Regions from separate parts of the Homo sapiens genome. Here region 2 is linked to region 1. The links come from fine-mapping of genetic effects on gene expression. A gene starts in region 1. The other region holds a variant in brackets. All regions are shown on one strand. Distances are from middle to middle.

Evidence for each region. PIP is the estimated chance that this variant, and not a neighbour inherited with it, causes the effect.
Region 2: its variant is fine-mapped to the expression of ABCB9 in cerebellar hemisphere (GTEx, PIP above 0.99). The same link has a PIP of 0.9 or more in cerebellum.

Annotation. Positions count from the first base shown.
Region 1 is chr12:122,964,053-122,968,436 of GRCh38, reverse strand. It overlaps ABCB9 (ATP binding cassette subfamily B member 9), which reads left to right and starts at 1,974. Exons shown (of 12, transcript NM_019625.4): 1 at 1,974-2,150. RefSeq lists a silencer at 1,666-1,955 and enhancers at 1,720-2,525, 2,526-3,333.
Region 2 is chr12:122,934,983-122,939,366 of GRCh38, reverse strand. ABCB9 (ATP binding cassette subfamily B member 9) reads left to right here. Exons shown (of 12, transcript NM_019625.4): 10 at 3,936-4,095. Among named protein-coding and RNA genes, the nearest start is that of ABCB9, 29 kb to the left of the region's middle. The variant A/G (reference allele first, on the strand shown) is at 2,012.

The DNA.
Region 1 (4,384 bases):
TCTCCTTTACTGAAAGTTTATCACATGCCAGGGGCTGCCCTCACTGGCCTTGTCACATTTTACCTTTACCTGATGCAGTCGATATCTTTATTACCCCATTTCTCTGATGAGAAAACAGGCTCAGATAGGCAAAGTCACCTCTTTAAGGTCACACAGCATAAATGACAGAGCCCAGCTCTGAGTGACTCCTGCTTTTTGGACAGTCCATCCAAGATATCGTCTTCAAGTACAATTAGATATTTGCCTTTGTTTTTGCACCAATAGTAACATGGTTCAACTTTATTCTCTCCTTGGTTTTTACTCAATACATTTAGGAGGTCATTCCATACCTTTATATAACTCTATGTCTTCTATTTTTTTTTTTCTGGCTACAGAGTATTCTGTTGAACAGGTGTTCTCTAATTATTTGGCCAGTTCCCTATGGAAGGGTATTTAGGTTATTTCCAGACTTTTGCTACTGTAGTAACTACCTTTAAGCTAGTACCTTAGCTCCCTTGCACAAGTCTATCTGTAGAGGAAATTCCTTCTGGGTTAAAAAAAAACATAGTGTTGTAAGTTCTGAACAAATTCCCCTCTAAAGAAGCTGTCCCACCAAGTAGCAGAGGACATTTCCAATTCAGAGAGTGCTCCAAAAAGCCTCTGTTCAGGGCTGGGCACACATGGCTCACGACTCTAATCCCAGCAGTTTGGAAGGCCAAGGAGGGCAGATCACTTGAGGTCAGGAGTTTGAGACCAGCCTGGCCAACATGGCTAAACCCCATCTCTACTAAAAATACAAAAATTAGCCAGGCGTGGTAGCGGACACCTGTAATCCCATCTACCTGGGAAGCTGAGGCAGGAGAATCACTTGAAGCTGGGAAGCAGAGGCTGCAGTGAGCTGAGAACTCGCCACTGCACTCCATCCTGGAGTCTCTGTCTCAGGAAAAAACAAAGCCTCTGATCAGAGGATCCAGGGATGTGGGCAGTTCTAGCCCCACCTGCTGCCCCTCTGGGCCGTAAGTCCACTCCCCCACCCACTTCCCACGGTTCAGGCCACATGGACCCTTTTCTGGTCCTCAAGTGGCCAAGTTGGTTCCCACCTCAGAGCCTTTGAACTTGCAGGCCTTAGCGTAGGATGTTCCTCCCTCCCCGTGGCTCACGCCTTCTCACCTTTCACTTACACAATTTTATTTATTTTACTGCATCCAGTACCTGAATGGCCTTATGCACTTACTTGCTGATGTTCTGTCCCCTTCACGCCATGAAGGCTGGGAGTTTTCTGTCTTTTCACACACAGCTGTGTTCCCAGCACCTGGCAGTCACTGAGGACATATCGCTGCCTCCCCTCTCCAATGCCCCGAATCCCTGATCTTGCACCAATTTTCTCCGTAAAATGTATTCCCTTCCAATATATCTCATTTGCTTATATGTGTTGTCTGACACCCTCACTAGAATGTCAGCTCCAGAAGGGCAAGGATCTTGTTTTGTTAATTGTTTAATTTCAAATGCTTAAAAGGGCATATGGCACGCCGTAGGCACTGGATAAATATCTGTTGGGTGAACGAATGAAAGAATAAGTGAATGAATGAGGACCATAACCCACCCTCCTGGACTGGCTGGCTGTCCCTCCAGGGAAAAAGGCCAGTTAAAAAGCTGGCCTCCTTCAGGTGAAACCATTTCCGTCCCCTCAGGATGGGCCCGTGGCTCCAGGTGGAGGCCAGCACGCAGTGTGGAGGGCCTGGTTGGCCAGATGTGGGAGGAGTTTGCCACAGGTGAGCAGGTGGCCAGCTGTGGCCCCGCCCCCAGGAGGCCCGTCCCCACCCGGAGGCTTCGCCAGCCCCCTCCTCGGGGGCCCCGCCCCGTCCAGGAAAGCCCGCCCACTCCTCCTGAGGCCCCGCCCCTCCCGGGAGGCTCCGCCGGTCCCTGCCCCAGGATCCCCGCCCCCTCCGTCACTGAGGCCCCGCCCCGTCCATCAGCCTGTCTCAACGCACGCCAGTCTCAGCTCCGACCTTGCAGCGGCGCAGCGCGGGTGGGAGGCGGGGAGGAGCAGCGGGAAGAGCGGAGCGAGGACCGCGTCCGGCGCAGTCTTCAATGAGCAGCGCGGAAACTGCACCCCAGACCCGAGCCTGCTGCGCGCCCCCTCCCAGAGCTCACCTGGTGCCAGGTAACAGGTAAGGGCAAGGCACCCTAGACCCCTGGTTTTGGGACCTTTCCAGGCCAGGGTGCCAGGCCAGGCACGCGTTGGGGGGCGTCTGGGCACCCCTGCCTCGGTGGGAATAGGCATCTCGGTTGAAGGTGGGAGCCTCCCTGGAGCCCTCCCGGAGCCCGCAGCCGCAGCTCCCAGCCCCCATCCCTGCAGCATCCTTTCCGCGCCCGTAGGGCGAATGTTGCCATTTTTTTTAACCCCCAAGGCGCCGCTGCCTCTTGGAAAATGTGGGAGGTGTTGGAGGATCCTGGGATGGCTGTCGTTCCCCCAGGACGGGGCTGGCGCGCCTTCTGAGGGCTCCCACTGTCCATGTCAGGGCTTCCCAGGGATCCTGAGCACCAGGGCTTTGGCAGAAGCCTGGGGGATCTGGCCTGTTCCTGCTGACCTGGGCAAAGCCCTTTTCTCAGTCTCCTCAGCAGGCCAGTGGGCTGCCGCTGCTCCCCGCCATCCACGCTGGCAGTGAGGCCTGTAGGTTCCCAGGGGAGCCTCTTTTATTTCTGGGCCTCTGGAAAAAAAAAAAAAGCCTCCTCCCCCGGCCTGACATTAACTGAGACAGCTTTAAGCTGGGCTGACAGGATCCCCGCCTCTGCCCATTCCCCTTTTCCGGATAGTGCAGGGCCGGGTGACAAGAGGAGGCTTGGAGGGAGGGCACCTCGCGCCTCTCTGCCTCTCCTAGAGCTGAGAGCACCTGAGACAGCTTCTCAAGTCCCAGAGTGAGGCTGGGCCCCACGTGGGCTGCCAGAGGCTCAGCAGGGATGAAATCAGGATGGACCCACGCAGACCCAGCCCGCTCCTGCCCCAGAGCCAGGGACCCCCACAGTCAGGCCCTCCCACCCAGCAGGCCTCTGTCAGTCAGTGCTTTGCTGCGCAGCGAATGGAATGGGCTTATCTGGGTCTGGGCCCACACCGGGGTAAAAAGCTCACCATGTCAGGGGTGAACCGAGGCCACTGGGCCACCCAAGTTCTTTGGCCCCTTTTCTTGCAATCCCTGAATAGCCTGGACAGGGGACCCCCGAGTCTCCATCCTGGAGACCCTGGATGCGGGTCTCCATCCTGCCTTCGTCCTTTTTCTGCGTGTCACTTAACCTCTTCTGTCTCCCCAGCTGTAAAACGAAGCTGATGACCACAGGGTCCTCCCAGGGAAGTGGGGAGGCCTGGCTGCTTTGGGAGGTGCCAGGCACATAGTAGGGCCCGGTGAAGGGTCTCTGTTGCAGTGTCATAATAACTTTTATCTATTGTCTCCTGGCCTTCTCTGCAAAGGGTCTCTGTTGCAGCGTCATAATAACTGCTATCTATCGTCTTCTGGCCTTCTCTGCAGCTGATGCCTAGAGATACCCCAACCAATGTCTCCTACCCTGGGAAGAAAAGCCTTTGACAAGACCCCTGGTGGGGACAAGGCCACTTGCTTATCCTGTGCCATTCTTTAGTGCACGGAGTCAGGGCGAGCCACCCCTGTCTTCCTGGGCCTTGTCCGGTTCTGGGTGGGGCCTATTCTGGCCACCACCTTGTCCTTGTCCCTCAGGCCAAGCAGGTCACCCATGTGCTCACAATTTGCCCTCCAGCTCCACCTGGCCGAGCCCAGCGCATCCTCTGAGTCAGGCAGTTGGAGAGCGGTGACAGGCCTCTAAGCAGCCTTGGCTGGTGGTCACGCTTCTGCCCAGTAGCTTTAAAAATAACGGAGTAACTGTCCCCACCGAGGACTGTAACCCGACCCGGGGCTGGAGTCCACTCTGCTAGGAGTCTGTGGTAGAAGGACTAGTGCTTGGGGGCAGGGACCCAGGTGCTAGCACTGCTCTGCCCCAGCCTGGTGGATGACCTGAGACAAGCCTCACCCCCTCCCTCTGTGGGCCTCAGTTTCCCCATCTGCAAAATGTGGCTTTGGTAGTCTGCGATATGAGTGTTTGAAATTTTGTTTATTCTGATGAAGATAAATAGGCTTCTGGAGGCGGGGGGCATGACTGGTACCCTGGGCTGTTGGGGGATGGGGAAGGAATTCCCCCAGAGGCTGGGAGTCAGGTTGGGAGAGTCAGCCAAGCCCCTGGGCTGCTGTCCAGGTTTTGAGTCTCTTGCGGATCTGCCTCCTGTTCCACTTCTGAGCCCGAGCCCCTTTCTGGGGACTGAGGGACCCCATGTGCCCACCACGAGGAGAGCAGCAGCTGAGGCGGCTGGCAGCACCTGGTGCAGCCGGCAGTGGCTTGG
Region 2 (4,384 bases), 29 kb after region 1:
TGGGTAGAATCGTGATTGGTGTGTGGATTAGTTTGTGTCTTGTGTCTCCCACTCGACATTGTGAGTCATCCAGGTTGAGGCTGGGGACAGAGTTCATTCATTTTCATTGCTGGGTGGTAACCCACTATACATATGTTTATCACAATTATTTATGCATTCTGGGTATTTGGGTTGTTTCCCTTTATTTTTGTTTTTTGAGATGAGTCTTGCTCTGTTGCCCAAGCTGGAGTGCAGTGGTGAGATCTCAGCTCACTGCAGCCTCCGCCTCCCGGGTTCAAGCTATTCTCCTATCTCAGCCCCCCTAGTAGCTGGGATTACAGGAGTGCGTCACCATGCCTGACTAATTTTTGTATTTTTAGTACAGACAGGGTTTCACCGTGTTGCCCAGGCTGGTCTCGAACCCTTGACCTCAGGTGATCAGCCTGCCTTGGCCTCCCAAAGTGTTGGGTTTATAGGCGTGAGCCACCGTGCCTCGCTGGGTTGTTTCCCTTTATATTTTATTTTATTTATTTGTTTATTTTTATTTTTATTTTTTTTTGGAGACAGAGTCTCGCTCTGTCGCCCAGGCTGGAGTGCAGTGGCACGATCTCGGCTCATTGCAAGCTCCACCTCCCGGGTTCACGCCATTCTCCTGCCTCAGTCTCCTGAGTAGCTGGGACTACAGGTGCACACCACAACGCCTGGCTAATTTTTTGTATTTTTAGTAGAGACGGCATTTCACCATGTTAGCCAGGATGGTCTCGATCTCCTGACCTCGTGATCCACCCGCCTCGGCCTCCCAAAGTGCTGGGATTACAGGCATGAGCCACTGCACCTGGCCTATTTTTATTTTTTTGAGAAAGGGTCTCCCTCTGTTGCCCAGGCTGGAGTGCAGTGGCACAGTCACAACTTACTGCAGCCTCAGAGTCCTGTGCTCAAGTCATCCTCCCACCTCAGCCTCCCAAGTAGCTGGGACTGCAGGCACATGCCATTATGCCCAGCTAATTTTATTTTTTTGTAGAAATGTGGTCTCACCATGTTGCCCAGGCTGATCTCAAACACCTGGCCTCAAGTGATCCTCCTGCCTCAGCCTCCCAAAGTGCTGGGATGACAGGTGTGAGCCTCTGCCCCCGGCCTGTTTTTCAGTTTTGTTTTGTTTTGTTTTGTTTTACCATTACCAAAAATACCAGTGTGGGATGTGGACAATTTTGTCTATGTTTTCTGTTGTACATGAGTACGTTCTCCCAAGGTATAATCCTAAGAGTAGAAAGCTTGGTGATAGTGGATGTACATCCCCAACTGCCGTAGTTTCTGTCACAACAGCTATCCCCAGGTGGTTATACCAATTTACATTTTACAATTTACATTCTACTAGCAGTGAAGGAGAGTTTCAGCTGTTCCACATTTAGGTCATCTCCAGTACTCAAAATAGGCTATTCATGACTGGACAGTTTTTAGTAATCCTTTCAGGAAAGGAACCATAACACCTGTCCCTGTGCTGGCCTAAGAGCAGGGATGCCCTGGATGGTTGCTCAGGTTGTGCACTGTCCAAGAAATATAAACTATTAAGGGAGCACCGTTTACATCATCAACATAAATTATGTGAAAGCCTGAGTGTTGGCACAGAGATTCCAGAACTCCTAGCCAAGTTCGAGATGGTGGTGAGGGCCATGGGTTGTGAAATCTGCCCACACCATGTGCATGTAACCAGAGGTAGATTGTTGTGAAATGGTGCCAAGTGGGAGGCCACCAGGCTGCTGCTCACCAAAGTTTTAGAAGAGCCCCCTGGGCAGAGCCGTTCACACTTTGCAGTAGGTACCACGCTTCGATTCTCAGACACCTAACATTGTCAGTCCTGAATTTTTGCTAACTGGTGAGAATGTAGTGGTAGCTTATTGTGGTCTTTTGTGTTTTCCTGATGACTGAAGATATTAAACACCTTTTCATATATTGGCCATTTGGTTTTCCTTCATGAATAGCCTCTCTTAATTATTTATTTATGTACTTTTTCTTTTCTTTTTTTTTTTTTAAG[A/G]TGGAGTCTCGCTCTGTCGCACAGGCTAGAGTGCTGTGGCATGATCTCGGCTCACTGCAACTTCTTCCTCCTGGGTTCAAGCGATTCTCCTGCCTCAGCTTCCCAAGTAGCTGGGACTACAGGCACATACCACCACACCCGGCTAATTTTTTGTAGTTTTAGTAGAGACAAGGTTTCACCATGTTGGCCAGGCTGGTCTCGAACTCCTGACCTCAAGTGATCCACCCGCCTTGGCCTCCCAAAATGCTGGGAGTGAGCCATGGCGCCTGGACTATTTATGTACTTTTTGTTTGAGATAGGATCTCACTCTGTCACCCAGGCTGGAATGTGGTGGTGTGATCATGGTTCACTGCAGCCACGACCTCCTGGGCTCAAGCAATCCTCCCACATCAGCCTCCTGAGGGACTATAGGTGCACACCACCACATCTGGTCAATTTTTTTTTTTTTTTTGAGATGGAGTTTTGCTCTTGTTGCCCAGGCTGGAGTACAATGGCACGATCTCAGCTCACCACATCCTCCGCCTCGAGGGGTCAAGTGATTCTCCTGCCTCATCCTCTTGAGTAGCTGGGATTACAGGCATGCACCACCACACCCAGCTAATTTTTTATTTTTAGTAGAGACAGAGTTTCTCCATGTTGGTCAGGCTGGTCTCAAACTCTTGACCTCAGGTGATCCGCCCACCTCGGCCTCCCAAAGTGCTAGGATTACAGGCATGAGCCACCGTGTACACCTGGCCAATTTTTAATTATTTTGTAGAGACGGGTTCTCACTGTGTTGCTCAGGCTGATCTCAAACTCCTGGGCTCAAGCCATCCTCCCACCTTAGCCTCCCAAACTGTTGGTGTTACAGGTGTGAACCACCATGGCTGGCCTCTATTTTTAAATTTAAAATGTTAATTTCTATAAACATAAAACAATAAAATGCTACAAGCTAATCATATTCTCATAGTTGTAATGAATCTTGTAACTAAGACATGAATGTTCCCCTCCACCTTACCTTTTGAATTCCACCACATGGAGGTAGCCAGTGTTAACAGTTTAGTAAATATCCTTTTCAATGTGTTTCCTATCTTTATAGAAATATATCAATATATGAAGGTACACGTTTATAATTTTTTTAAACAAAAATAGAATCATGCTGTGTATATGTATCTATTACAATTCAGTTTTAAGGATGCACTGTCACTATTTAACCAATCCCCATTTATGGACACCTAGATTGTTTCCATTTTAATTTAATTAATTAACTAATTAACTTTTGCTACTTATGGTGTTGCAATGATATCTTCCATACTATATATTTTTTTCATTTTGTAGATATGGGGTCTTTCTGTGTTGCCCAGGCTGGTCTTGAACTCCTAGACTAAAGCCATTCTCCTGCCTCTGCCTCCCTAAGTGCTGGGATTACAGGCATGAGCCACCAGGCCTGGCCATACTATTATTTTTGTAGGCCCAGATTCCTGAAACTGGAATCTAGAGATGATAGCTCCTTTAAATTGTTCTCTTAGAAGGGAGGGGACCACCGCCAGGGCAGTCTGTGTGACCTGGAGCCCTGCTGTGGCCTCTTGCTTCCTGAGATGAGCAGACTCATTCACAGCAACATTCTATATTCTATCCCTCTTTCTTTTTTTCAGGACAGGGATGGCCAGTGAGCTTTCTCTTAGAGGTCAGGGAACTTGGCTTATCCCAGAGCAGCAAATGTAGCAGGCCCCAGTTTGCTGATTAGGGGAGGCTGAGGGCTTGTGGGTACAGGCGGGAGTCACTGTTGGGGAAGAAGAGAGGCAGCTCAGTGCAGTCACTGGGCCCTGATCAGGTTTCAGGCCTGAGACTGCTGGTGTCTCCAGGCCCCAGGCAGCAAGGCTGCTGGGGACAGCTGGATGAACACATTCCTGGCCTCTCATGCTCCATGCTCCCTCCTCCCCAGATCTCCCTGGTGAGCCAGGAGCCCGTGCTGTTCGCCCGCTCCATCACGGATAACATCTCCTACGGCCTGCCCACTGTGCCTTTCGAGATGGTGGTGGAGGCCGCACAGAAGGCCAATGCCCACGGCTTCATCATGGAACTCCAGGACGGCTACAGCACAGGTGTGGAGCTGGGGGTGGCCCCTCTCCTGGGCCCACAGGGTCACCCTCAGGGACATAACCCTCTGAGTTAAGCACTGCCCCCTGCCACCTGCTCTTTTTTTTGTAGAGATGGGGTCCCGCTACGTTACCCTGGCCAGACTCGAACCTCCTGCGCTCAAGCAATCTTCCTGCAATCCCCAAAGTGCTGGGATTACAGGCATGAGCCACTGTGCTGTGACTCAGCAAAATATTTATTAAGTAAATTATTATAGAAGCCCATACACTGGAATATTATGCTGCTGGGAAAAAG